Linked DNA regions of Homo sapiens: region 2 is linked to region 1. Evidence: fine-mapped expression QTL. A gene starts in region 1. The other region holds a variant in brackets. All regions are shown on one strand. Distances are from middle to middle.

Region 1 (2,918 bases):
CATGCCTGTAATCCCAGCACTTTGGGAGGCTGAGGCAGGTGGATCACTTGAGCTCAGTAGTTCAAGACCAGCCTGGCCAATGTGGCAAAACCCATTTCTACTAAAAATACAAAAATTAGTTGGGCATGGTGGTGCATCCCTATAGTCCCAGCTACTTGGGAGGCTGAGGCAGGAGAATCACTTGAACCCGGGAGGCAGAGGTTGCAGTGAGCCGAGATCATGCCGCTGTACTCCAGCCTGAGCAACAGCAAGACTCTGTCTCAAAAAAATAAAAAATAATAAATAAATAAATAAATCACTAAGCAAGTTTAAACAAAATATTGTCTAATTTTTTAGAACAAAAAAAAACAGAGTATCTTTTTTTTTTTTTTTTTAGACAAGGTCTCACTCTATCACCCAGGCTGGAGTGTAGTGACAACACCATGGCTCAACTGATCTTCCTCCCTTAGCCTCCTGAGTAGCTGGGACTACAGGCGCACACCACCACACCTGACTAATTTTTAATTTTTTTTTTAGAGATGGAGTTTCACCATGTTATTCAGGACGGTCTCGAACTCCTGAGCACAAGTAATCCACCTGCCTCAGCCTCCCAAAGTGCTGGGATTACAGACATGAGCCACTGTGCCTGGCCTGAGAGTATGTTTAAATGCCTACAGAGAGAATGGAAGAAGAAGAAAACAAATTCTAGTTTTGCAAGACTTTTAATGACCCAAGTATCAGTCCCAAAGTTATCCTCATGCTTTCTTTACATTTTCAGGAGCTCATTGCCAAACGCCATACCCTTCTTGTATAGAAAGGAAAGATACTTTGTTGGCCAAATTCCCACTTTTAAAATATAATTAATTAAAACTGATAAAATTTGAATTTTGCTCTGGCTCTCAAGAAAAAGAAAAAAAGTCCAGGCACAGTGGCTCATGCCTGTAATCTCAGCACTTTGGGATGCCAAAACAGAAGGATTCCTTGAGGACAGGAGTTTGAGAACAGCTTGGGCAACAAAGCAAGACCCTGTCTCTACAAAGAAAAAAAAAATTAAAAATTAGCCAGCAGTGGTGGTATATGCCTGTAGTCCCAGCAACTTGGGAGGCTGAGATGGAGGATCAGTTGAGCCCAGGAGGTCAAGGCTGCAGTGAGCAGAGATCATGCCACTGCACTCCAGCCTGGGTGACAGAGCAAGACCCTGTCTCTCTCTCTCTCTCTCACACACACATAAACACACACACACAAACACACACACAGACAAAGAAAGAAAGAAAGGAAAAGAAAAGGAGTGAGATACCATTAAGATAAACCAGAAACCTGAGGAACACTCTCATTACATACAGGAAAACAGCTTCTGTTGTTATTATTTTTTGCATGTGTGCATGCAAAATATCAAGAGGATTTTTTCTGGAAAAGGACAATCCATACCCTTAGCAAGGTAATGAGCTTCTTTGAGATAACTGGAGGAACTGGAGCATCTTCCCATGTCAACACTTGGCTCAATCTTGAAATCCAAAGGCATATCCAAAGAGGTTCCACTCAGAATCCAACAGAACCTTTCTGTAGAATCCAAATTGATTTTCTGAAGTCAGGTGACTACATTTGGGGCCACGCCTGCTTATGCAGCTATCTTGACCATTATGTGCTCAGCAATACCTCACAAGTCACTCTGAGATGAACACTTTGAGCAAACAGGGCCAGGACATCACAGTGACCCAGGCTGTGAAAACACTTCAGGCCAGTCCCTGAGTAGGAATGGACAACAAGGTGGTCACCATGCTGACAGCTATTCCCTGTGTGATTTACTTTATTATGAAGTCTAAATTTGATGCTGAAGTGCTAGCCTAAGCTCACTAACCTGCCAACTTAGAGAAGAAGGTAACCATGGCTAGGATGACTGGGAATCTGATGGACTCAATTAAGAATTTCTACAGATGGGAAAACCAAAACTCCTTAGTGGCAAGAGGCCAAAGATGGTCAGCGAATTGTTGTTTCCGGCTGGTAGGTGACATTTCTTCTATTCGCTAAGCCCATTTTGTGATAACACAGTTTTCCATATTGACAGGATTGTTTTCATCACCAAAGGAAAACCGTGGGTCCATGTTCCTGTGACAATCTCTTTGTCTCATTCCCAACACCCTCTGTTCTGTGTTTAAACCTCTACAAACCAGGCAAACTGGGGACTATGTGTAGGACCCAGACATGGAGGAGAAAGCAGGCATTGTTTCTACTTACCTTATCTGCCCCTCCACTAAGGTACCAGTTAGTACAACCACGTAACACTCACAAGTCCTACACTTCTAAGATCAGCCCTACTGACTTTGTCACGGTAAGAGTTGGCTGTTGGAGGCAATGATTCAACAATCTAAATTCTGATTATTCCTTTTTGTATCTGTCATTTAGAATGTGAATAGTGTACATCTAAAAGCTTTAAGTACATTATCCATCAATTTTTACTACACAAAGCAGTATGCTGCTCTGTCTTCAAACAGCACAATGCTACAGTCAACACAAAGGGCAAAACCATGGCAATATGGCAATTGCAATAGAAACTCACCAACATCTTGGAGTCTCTGGATATCACAGGTGAACAAGTTGAAGGGCCTTGCGACACAGACAAGCAACCCTTTAATTCTAAATCATCTTTTTTTCAACAGTTGGAAGTTGACTGCAGTTGAATAACAGAACAAAAACGGAGCTTCAAAATCATGGCGTGCCTGCTTCTTCTGGGTTCTTTTAACTGCAAGCAATCAGCTTTGAAGAGCACGTAGGGAACTTCTGATGTGATACAAACTTTTGTCTTTTTTTTTTTTTTTGTCTTTTAAGAGCATTCAAAAACACTTGGTCTGGCTGTTTCAATTTTCTCTTTCTCTCCTATTCCTAGCTCAAGAATAACATTTACATATGAAAGAAAATAGGAGATGGCTCAGAATAATATG
Region 2 (2,918 bases), 26 kb before region 1:
ATGCTTTCTAACAGGAAGCCTCAGTCTTTCAGACCCTGTCATCTGCTTCTATTAGAATCCATTACGTACATATAACAGTGGTTGCTAAACACCTGCTGCCTCCCTGACTCTTGACCTTCCAAAGGTCAATGAGCCGAGCTTTGGCCGGAGTCCACAGTGAGCTTAGAGGTAACATCTCTCGCTACCTGAAAGAAGCTTCAAATAAATGATACTGAATCGACACAGATTAATAGTTGCACCAATGGGTGTTTCAAAAACAAAGGATTTCTCCTGAGGATTTTACATGATTTACAGCTTGTTAGCTCTGGAAGATTTCGTCCTTAGGAATGGGAAGAAATCAGCCCTGAGAAGAGGGATGAGGCTTGTTCCTGGGACTGGGGGGCTCAGGTGAAACCCAACAGAGAAGACTTTTGCTCATCATAAGGAGAGAGTAGGGATGGTGGGAGCTGTTTGTTATACAGGATAAGAATCCCCCATGTGGGCAATGATCAAAAGCCTACAGGACCACCCTCCGTGGGCTGTAACCATGATTCTTAACCAAGGGGGCTTATCGGAATCACCTGGGGAGATTTAAAAGCAATATTCCTACCAGAGCCCCACCGCTGGCGATGCTGAGACAGTAGGTGGGATGGAGGCATGTGCATGATTGTAAAATCTCCCATGGTGATTTTGATGGTCTCCCCAGTTGAGGACCACTGCTAGAGGATCTGTAGGGTGCGAGGGAGGCTGGGCTCTGTGCCCAGGCCTGAGATCTGTGACTCTATAACTCAGCCAGTGGCCTCAGTTAGTTGCCGCCCACTCTCACTGGAGTTACTATGCCAGGACTGACTCCAATCCACCCTGGGAATGTAGCCACAAGAAGCCCTCACCATTCAAGGAGCCTGCGACAGAAGGCACAGCTCGGACTGGGTGCCGTCATCTCTGCACAATCCTGCCTTCTTGGAGTGCCGTTGGGATCCTCCTGCGCCACAAAGCACACAGATGGAGATGTGATAGAGGATGTGACTCACGCCGCGGCTGCACACGCACAGCCCAGCAAGCAGCTGAGGTCCGGCTGAACTTGCCACCTCAGGCAGAGAGACTCGCCAAACCTCTCCTCCAGTTGGGGAAAGGGAGGCGCAGGGGGACAGGAGGGAAAGAAGAAAGAGCCCATCCTTAGTTCTGATGTGTCACTCAGTCGGGGCTGCGCCTCTAATGGCCTGGGCTGAAGAATGGAAGTTTC[C/T]ACCCTGGCTTGCTTCCTTCCTCCTCTAAACAGATTTTAAAATCTGGTGTACAGATGACAGAATACTCTCCCCTTTTTATCTTTCCCTTAGTTTCAAATTACTCCAAGCTTCGCCAGATAATGAACAGATTTAGGAACATAATTTTTAGATCTATTAATCTGACCGCTGGCTAGTAGAGCTCTAAAAGCCTTTCTAAATAAATATATTCAACTATGAATTAAAACAGGGTTTAGGGACTGTCTGGGGGCCTAAATGATTGGTTATATGTCCCTCTTTAACACAAAACAATTACTCCACTGACCTGTGAGGGCTGTTACCACCCACTGTGTATTTTTGACTAAGGTCTTACCCTTTATGTAAGTAAAAAATAAATGTACTTTTCCCATCATTATAAACAATGGCAGAAGCATCATTGTACACATAGCTTTTTCCACATCTTGGATTACTTCCTGAGGAAATGTCTGGGCCAAAGGTTGCGAACATGTTTGTGTGATGACCCATATTGCCAAATTGCTTTCCACAAAAGTTGTACAGATTTCACAGCCACCAACAGTGTGGACGGCTCAGTTTGACCACACCTTCCTCTGCATCAGGAATTATCACTTGAAAATGTTTCTGTTAATTGAAGGGAGGGGTGTGTCACCTTTTGTGTTAATTTGCATTTCCTCTGTGACTAAAGGAAATAAGTCTGTTCCTATATGCTGATTTATTGGTTGTATTTCCTACCTGTGACTTTTTTTTTTTTTTTTGAGACGGAGTCTCACTCTGTTGCCCAGGCTGGAGTGCAGTGGCCTAATCTCAGCTCCCGGGTTCAAGCAATTCTTCTGGCTCAGCCCCCCAAGTAGCTGGGATTACAGGTGCCCACCACTACCCCCAGCTAATTTTTTGTATTTTTAGTGGAGACAGTTTCACCATGTTGGCCGGGCTGGTCTTGAGCTCCTGACCTCATGATTCGCCCACCTCGGCCTCCCAAAGTACTGGGATTACTTTAATTGTGAGTAATTGTGTGAGCCACTGCGCCCGGCCTTACTTGTGACTTTTTAGCTCATGTCCTTTGTCCATTAATTTTCTTGGAGGGTTTCAGTGTTTTCCTGTTACCATTTGCTAGTTGTTCATGATGTGCCAGGTGCTTCCCTTATAGTCTCCTTAATACTTCCAACCATCCTGGCACGTTGTCGCCATTTTAATGGTGAGTGATCTGAGGCCTGGCGGATTTAAGCAATTTGGCAAGGTTGCATCATGAGTAAGTGGGAAAGCTGGGATTTTAACTTTTACCTATCTGACTGGTATGCTGTGTTCTTTTTTTTTTTTTTTTTTTTTTGAGATGGAGTTTCTCTGTGTTGCCCAGGCTGGAGTGCAGTGGCGCAATCTTGGCTCACTGCAACCTCCACCTCCCTCCCAATTTCAAGTGATTCTCCCACCTCAGCCTCCCTTCCAAGTAGCTGGGACTACAGGAACACACCACCCCACCCAGCTAATTTTGGTATGTCTTAGTAGAAACAGAGTTTCACCATGTTGGTCAGGCTGGTCTCGAACTCCTGACCTCAAGTGATCCACCCGCCTTGGCCTACCAAAGTGCTGGGATTACAGGCGCGAGCCACTGCACCCGGCCAGTATGCTTGTGTTCTTAACCACAGTTCTGCTCCTTGGGGAATTTGTCACAGCATTTGATATAATGAAGTTCTCAACAATGAA

Which allele goes with the higher level. Positions count from the first base shown, and alleles are read on the strand shown. Sizes are in standard deviations (SD) of each study's normalised expression.
As copies of T replace C in region 2, the expression in sigmoid colon of the gene that starts at base 1,573 in region 1 goes down (large effect, 0.78 SD a copy in GTEx).

What was found. PIP is the estimated chance that this variant, and not a neighbour inherited with it, causes the effect.
Region 2: its variant is fine-mapped to the expression of AKNAD1 in sigmoid colon (GTEx, PIP above 0.99).

What each region holds. Positions count from the first base shown.
Region 1 is chr1:108,855,522-108,858,439 of GRCh38, forward strand. It overlaps AKNAD1 (AKNA domain containing 1), which reads right to left and starts at 1,573. Exons shown (of 16, transcript NM_152763.5): 1 at 1,408-1,573. It overlaps SPATA42 (spermatogenesis associated 42), which reads left to right and starts at 1,696. Exons shown (of 3, transcript NR_034168.1): 1 at 1,696-1,980; 2 at 2,637-2,746; 3 at 2,864-2,918.
Region 2 is chr1:108,829,690-108,832,607 of GRCh38, forward strand. It overlaps AKNAD1 (AKNA domain containing 1), which reads right to left. Exons shown (of 16, transcript NM_152763.5): 10 at 870-961. All of the region lies in intron 2 of LOC105378891 (a long non-coding RNA gene), which reads left to right. Among named protein-coding and RNA genes, the nearest start is that of AKNAD1, 26 kb to the right of the region's middle. The variant C/T (reference allele first, on the strand shown) is at 1,223.